Linked DNA regions of Homo sapiens. The protein of the gene in region 1 interacts with the protein of each later gene in a pairwise test. Each region holds a gene or a part of one and is shown in the gene's direction. Other genes may lie near its edges.

Region 1 (3,829 bases):
TGGCTCACGCCTGTAATCCCAACACTTTGGGTGGCTGAGGCGGGTGGATCACCTGAGATCAGGAGTTTGAGACCAGCCTGGACAACATGGTGAAACCCTGTCTCAACTAAAAATACAAAAATTAGCCGGGAGTGGTGGCAGGCACCTCTAATCCCAGCTCCTCAGGGGGCCGAGGCAGGAGAATTGCTTGAACCCGGGAGGCGGAGGTTGCAGTGAGCCAAAATCAAGCCATCGCACTCCAGCCTGGGGGGCAAGAGCAAGACTTCGTCTCAAAAAAAAAAAAAAAAAAAGAAACAAGAAACAGTACTAAATATATACTTTGTGGCTATATTTCCAAGGAAAAGTTTTTCTTTTTAAATCAACTTTATCAAGGTCTAATTTTGCACACCATAAGTATATCATGTTGTACAAGTACCACCACAATCCAGTTTTAGAATGTTTTCATCACCCCAGTAAAATCCCTAATACCCGTTTACAATTAATCCTCATTCCTATCCTCAGCCCATTAGGGTGTACCTTCTGTTTCTATAGATTTGTCTTTTCTGTACATTTTATGTAAATGGAATCATATATCAAGAGAAAAATTTTAACTTCAGTAAAATACTTTTATAAGTCTTATAACCACTGAATTATTTTATTATTTATAATATATCAGATATTTATTCCCTTATTTACAGTTTCAAAACCCAGAGAATTTTGAAAACAAACTTTCAAAAAGTTTCTTGCCACAGCTAATTTGGCAGATTAGAAATTACAACCAGTAGAAAGAATGATTTTGCATGTTATAAAATTCACTTGTTAAAAAATGAGATGTAGCTGTTACCACAGTAACATTATATATGCATTCCAGAAAATACCTTTGTTCTGCAAAATGGTACATTTTTAAAAAACAAAACAAAACAGGCTTATGGGAAAAATAAGCTTGAGGTAGTCCATATAAAACCTGTGTAACTTTGTAATCAGAGGACTAGCAAAAACAATAATTGATGCCTCCACAAAATTTAAATAGGATTGGCAGGCAGCTGAGTGTGGCTGGAGGCTGTCTTAGGGAATATTAAAAATAAAATTGTGGGCTGGGCAGATTACACGCCTGTAATCGCAGCACTTTGGGAGGCCGAGGCGGGCAGATCACGAGGTCAGGAGATCGAGACCATCCTGGCTAACACAGTGAAAACCCATCTCTACTAAAAAAAAAAAAAAAAATTAGCCAGGCATGGTGGCAGGCACTGGTATTCCCAGCTACTTGGGAGGCTGAGGCAGGAGAATGGCGTGAACTCGGGAGGCGAAGCTTGCAGTGAGCCGAGATTGCGCCACTGCACTCCAGCCTGGGCGACAGAGCGAGACTCCATCTCAAAAAAATAAAATAAAATAAAATCGTGGAGGTGGTGCGCACCTGTAGTCCCCAGCTACTTGGGAGGCCGAAGTGGGAGGATCACTTGAGCCCAGGAGGTTGAGGCTGCAGTGAGCCAAGATTGCACCACTGCATTCCACCATGGGCGACAGAGTGAGACCCTGTCTCAAAAATAAACAAATAAAAATAAAAGTCATGGATTGAAAATGTTAGCCAGTGGGTTCTGAGTCAGTGCAGATGGTAGCAAGCTCTGAGCCAGTGGGACTGTTATTAAGTAGCAACTAGGAGGAAATGCAACCCAACAGAGTCATGGATCCACTCTGAGGCACGAATTGCTGGTGTAGGGAGTTATTTACACTTTTCTTATGAATAGATCTGAAAGCATATCTACCTGTGTGATAACTGAGTTGATGACTTTCTTTTTCTTGATGAAAGTTATACTTCCATTATAATTATAGCTTGTCTTGCCTAATATTAACTAATACAACTATAACATTTTTCTGACATTATTTCCTTTTTTAGCAATCGCATATAAGCATATTTGGTTTTATAAAAACACATGTTGGCCAGATGCGGTGGCTCACTCCCAGCACTTTGGGAGGCTGAGGCAGGTGGATCACCTGAGGTCAGGAGTTCCAGACCAGCCTAACCAACAAGGAGAAACCCTATCTCTACTAAATATACAAAATTAGCCGGGCATGGTGGCACATGCCTGTTAATCCCAGCTACTCAGGAGGCTGAGGCAGGAGAATCACTTGAACCCGGGAGGTGGAGGTTGTGGTGAGCTGAGATTGTGCCATTGCACTCCAGTCTGGGCAACAAGAGCGAAACTCCATCTCAAAAAAAACAAAAACAAAAACAAAAAAAAACATGTTATAGCAGAATAGACGAGACCAGCAGTTTATATTTGGCATTTACATACATCAGAAATCTTTTTTTTTTTTTTTTTTGAGGCGGAGTCTTGCTCTGTCGCCCAGGCTGGAGTGCAGTAGCATGATCTGGGCTCACTACAAGCCCCACCTCCCGGGTTCATGCCATTCTCCTGCCTCAGCCTCCCGAGTAGCTGGGACTACAGTTGCCCGCCGCCACGCCCAGCTAATTTTTTGTATTTTTTAGTAGAGACGGGGTTTCACCGTGTTAGCCAGAATGGTCTGTATCTCCTGACCTCGTGATCCGCCCGCCTTGGCTTCCCAAAGTGCTGGGGTTACAGGTGTGAGCCACTGCGCTCGGCCCAGAAATCTTTTTAATTACACTTGATTAAGGAATCATTTCATTGATTTTAAATTTTTCTGCAAATCCTTGGACAAGCCAGAAATATGGTAGATATTGGTGGTTTGATGTTCAAAAATGTGATGGAAGCCGGGTGTGGTCTCTCATGCCTGTAATCCCAGCACTTTGGGAGGCTGAGGTGGCCAGATCACTTGAGGCCAGGAGTTTGAGACTAGCCTGGCCAACTTGGTGAAACCCCATCTCTACTAAAAATACAAATATTAGCCAGGTGTAGTGGCAGGCACCTGTGGTCCCAGCTACTCGGGAGGCTGAGGCAGGAGAATCGCTTGAATCTGGGAGGCGGAGGTGGCAGTGAGCTGAGATCATGCCACTGTGCTGCAGCCTGGGCAACAGAGGGAGACTCCATGTCAAAAAAAACGGGGGCGGGGGATGGAAGTTCCTGTTTACTAATTTTTCATGTCATTTTGCTTTATAACAATTGGCATTACTGTGTTACCAGATAGATTTCTTACTGGATTAGACCCTGTACGTTTTTGTTGCCACTTTCCTTGGTGCTTTGAGCTTTTATCTTTTTTTTTTTTGAGATGGAGTCTCACTCCATCACCCAGGCAGGAGTGCAGTATCATGATCTCTGCTCACTGCCACCTCCTCCTCTCGGGTTCAAGCCATTCTCCTCTCTCAGCCTCCCAAGTAGCTGGAATTACAGGCGCCCTCCACCACACCCAGCTAATTTTTTTTTTTTGTATTTTTAGTAGAGACGGGGTTTCGCCGTGTTGGCCAGCCTGGTCTCAAACTCCTGACCTCAGGTGATCCACCCGCCTTGACCTCCCAAAGTGTTGGGATTACAGGCATGAGCCACTGCGCCCGAACGAGTTTTTATCTTCATTTGAAAAGACAGATACCTAAAAAATTATTTATATTTGATTATATATGGTTTGGAATCTTCTTTAAGCCACATAAAATCAAGAAATTAGGCTGATGGTACTTCTTTTGAAAGAGTAAATGAAGAGAGGTCTGCCAATGATGCATCAGAGTACTGAGAGCTTTCTGAGGATCATAAGTGAAGCCATTGTTATATATTAGCATTGACTTAGCACTCATGGCTTGGTAATATGTGTGTAGGCTGCTTTTGTGCTAATGGTGTTTGTTGTCATTTTTATCACACATATTTATGAACAACCACAACTATGTACCTGGAACTGTATTATTTGAAGAAAGATATATCATAAGCAAGCCAGAAATAGTTCT
Region 2 (3,829 bases), on another chromosome or scaffold:
TGAGACAACCTAACTGCATTCCTGAGAAACTAAAAATAAGTTATAATATGATAAGAATAGTTTTTAAAGTACTTTGAAAAGAAATTATTTCAGTATTTATGCCTTGATTTAATTTAATGTATATATTTTGTAGGACATATTTGTTATGTAGAGTTTCAGGCATTAAGAATTTCTAAAGCTAACATGATGTATCAAGATTTATAGCTACCACCTAATGTTTTCATTCCATCTGTTTGTACCTGGACTGAATTCAATGTGTCTTTTTATATAAAACGAAATCTGGTTACATGATGCCTGGCCCAATTTGCCAAAAATACAACCAAAAATTATAACTGAAATAAAAGAAATAAGGTATAATAAAATTATAAATATCGGTCCAGTTTGTAAGATAAATTATGGTAAGGTAGATTTTTAACTAGTAATGAAAGAAAATGTGTCTATACTTAAAGAAAGTAGACTGCTTTAAAAATTGCTAGATTGAGAAAGATACGGCATTTCTTTGGCTTTTTAGATTTTTCAAATAAATTATAGAAGTAGAGAAGCTTCGGTAGTGTATACATATTACTGAGTTGCAAGATAGTAAAAGAATCTTTAGCATGGTACATATTTCTTCTCAGGCTACAGAAATGCACTAGTTAATATTGCTGACTTTTAACACTAAATGCTAATTATTAATGCCTATTTCAGTTATATCTGGTCTCCAGGTTCTTTCCTGTTGAGGCTTCTGGGAATCTGTCTTATTTGTTACAATGGTCTGGTGATTCTAAGACCCCATCTGTTCCTGAATCAGTCTTAATTTATATGGTGATCATTTGTGAGCATTGGCTAAACCACTCCAACAATTAATATTCTTGATTGAATTTCATGGGGTGCAAAAAATTAAGTAGGTTGCTTTCCTTTGTATGATATGGTTAGAGCTTATAAACACAGAAGCAGGTGTGATATCTCAGAAAACAGATCAATTCCTTTTCACAATTTATAGAAGAGCTTTAGAGGAACACAGAAATATCACGCCTTGCCACAATTTAATAGAAGGATGTTATAAATCAATTATATGGGGCTTTCCATGCTCTAGCAATGTTTCAACTTCAAATCTTGATCAATATTATTAAATTAAATAATTCAAAGAAGAAATTGTTTAACAAATCTGTAAGCTTATCTAAAAGGGAAATTTGCCACTTTGGCCTAGTATGTCAGCATGTGTATACGTGGTATTGAAAATAAGAAGAGATATATGGGAACAATAAGACTATGGTCTGAGATTATTGTTTTTAGTGTTGTGTCATTTAATCGGGAATCCATATATTTTAGGGCAGATTATTGAGGATAAATAACCTACACCACCTACTACTGATAATAACCTATTACTGATATGTTATTAGCAAAATTGGTGTTTTAGCTCATTTAAGTTCTTGATGCTATTTTTAATACATGTATTTGTCCCTTTTACAGGTACCCTGGTTTTGCTACAGATTCAACTGTTGCTTTACTTATAGGGCTGCTATTCTTTCTTATCCCAGCTAAGACACTGACTAAAACTACACCTACAGGAGAAATTGGTTGAGTATCATTTATAATTCTGCATAAATTTAACAGAAGAGCAAAAATTACAAAATTCCATTGGTTTCGCTTGGCACCTAGAGCAGAAAGAAAGTCTATGCTGGCACAATCCCTGGCCTAGCATGCCCTATTTGCAAACTGCAATGCTGTCTTCAAGCCAGCACAGCTTCCACCTTCAAGAGAGATCGTCTTACTTTGCAGAAGTGAGAAGTAGATTTCCTTTTGTATCATGGCTAGGGCTCTGCTACAAGCGATACTATTTGACCCATGGTAAACTCACTTCAAAATTAATCTTACTATTGGCAAACAGAGGAAAAAGAACTTGGAAGACACTGCTTCATTATGATACCTTGGTAATAAATGCAGAGGATCTAAAAAGGTGATGAATTTCAAGAGAAAGAGTATTTACATTCTCAAAGTAGTTCTGGAACAAAAGCTAAATAAACCTCACATAGCCATATCCTAGGATCACAGCTGAAATAAAAGGGCCAGATGTGGTGGCTCACACCTGCAATCACAGCACTTTGGGAGACTGAGGCAGGAGGATCACTTGAGGCCAGTAGTTTGAAACAAGCCTTGGCAGCATGGTGAGACCCCAGCTCTATCAAAAAATTAAAAAAATTAGCCAGGTGTGGTGGCCAATCTGGAGGCCAACGCAGGAGGATCACTTGAGCCCAGGAGTTGGAGGCTGTAGTGAGCTATGATTGTGCCACTGCCCTGGGCAACAGAGGGAGACTCGGTCTCTAAAAATAATGATAGTAATAAAAATAAAGAAAAGGTATTCTGTGACAGCATTCATTGTATTTACAACACATGAACAAAGAAGTGTGCACATTTGCCTGAGCATACCATCCTCTCAACACACACACACACACACAGACACACACACTTTTTAAACACAAGATTCATCCATATCTTTGCTTTACAACACAGCATGTTTTGAGTAGTCAGATTCCTATCTTGTCAATGTGGGACAACTAATTTGTAATTGTCTGGAAATTAACTAGTAGACTTGTGGTTTTGTTTGTTTGTTCTTATGGGGATGGAACTGGGATTTATGTAGTTGTGTTGGCCCACTTGACTCTTGTCAGAATCTATAAATGACTAATGTATCAGATTTCCAGGACATATGTGACCAGCACAGCATAGAAACAAATGTACTTTGTTTTTCACTTGAGATTAGAATATCTCAATGTGTGTTAAGGAGGTGATGCAATATGGAGCATTGATTCCTATGGGACCCCAAGGACTCTGATCATTGCAGTCAAAGCCCTGAGGTCTGGCAGTGGCAAGTACTGAGGAATCCATGTTTGGCTTTAGCTTCCCTGGTTTCCACATCTGAATTCCCTCCCTTAGAAAGAGCCTTGCTCCTACCCACCTTTCTCTCTCCCCTCATTCTTCAAAACCTCTTCTCCCTGCTAAAGTCATTCATACAAGGCTTAAAAATGACAAATAATATATAAATATGTTAAATTTTAAATAAGAAGTACTTGTCAGAGATGTTTACATTTTAACAAGATATATGACCTTAAAGTAAGAAACCTGGTGACATAATTTCAGTTATCAGTGAGGATGGGTTTGGTTTGGATTTGGGGGAAGATGATAGGAAGGAAGCTTATTGGTAAACTTAAAATCTTACCATGTAGAAGGCTGCCTGTTATACACAAGTTAAATGGGCAGAATATGTCTCCAAATGAACTTCTTTATCAACAAAGCAATGGAGAGATCAGAAGCCAAATATAAAGAGAAATCTTTATGATAATCCTTTTATAAGCACTTTAAGAACCTCATAAATAATACTTTATTTAATCTGAATCTTGAATTATTTTTAAACTGAAATCTTGGTGAATCTATCATGATCCTCCTTATGACCTAAAAACTAATAAAATGTTCAAATATTAATGGATAATAATTAAAATGCTACAAGATGCTATTGGAACCAATGGAATATTATGGACATTTTGCATAGCAAAGAATATTATAGTCTAATGCACTGTGCTATTCACAGTTGGCAAAGATGTTAGTGGAATATAAATGAATGAGTGAGTGAATGAATGAGTACCATTATAAGTGACAATGTTATAATTTATTGAAATATATTCTATAATATTACCCAAAGGATTTTTTTAAGTTATGGAGTTTTCTCTTTTTTATAGTAGAATGTTCCACCTAGTCCAGGTGGAAATTACTCAAACTCCAGATTAATTCCCCTCTTTAAAAACAATATAGGAATATTACAAACTTCCTGTAAGATGGCTACTTAGGATGC

What was found.
Region 2: the proteins of ACTR10 (region 1) and SLC13A1 interact in a protein complementation assay, tested with the Homo sapiens proteins (one large-scale study listed by BioGRID).

Annotation. Positions count from the first base shown.
Region 1 is NC_000014.9:58,203,032-58,206,860, forward strand, and holds part of ACTR10 (actin-related protein 10), read left to right. Parts: intron 1-3,829. UniProt on the Homo sapiens protein: Part of the dynactin complex that activates the molecular motor dynein for ultra-processive transport along microtubules.
Region 2 is NC_000007.14:123,123,299-123,127,127, reverse strand, and holds part of SLC13A1 (solute carrier family 13 member 1), read left to right. Parts: intron 1-1,452; coding exon 1,453-1,559; intron 1,560-3,829. UniProt on the Homo sapiens protein: Sodium:sulfate symporter that mediates sulfate reabsorption in the kidney and small intestine. Can also mediate the transport of selenate and thiosulfate.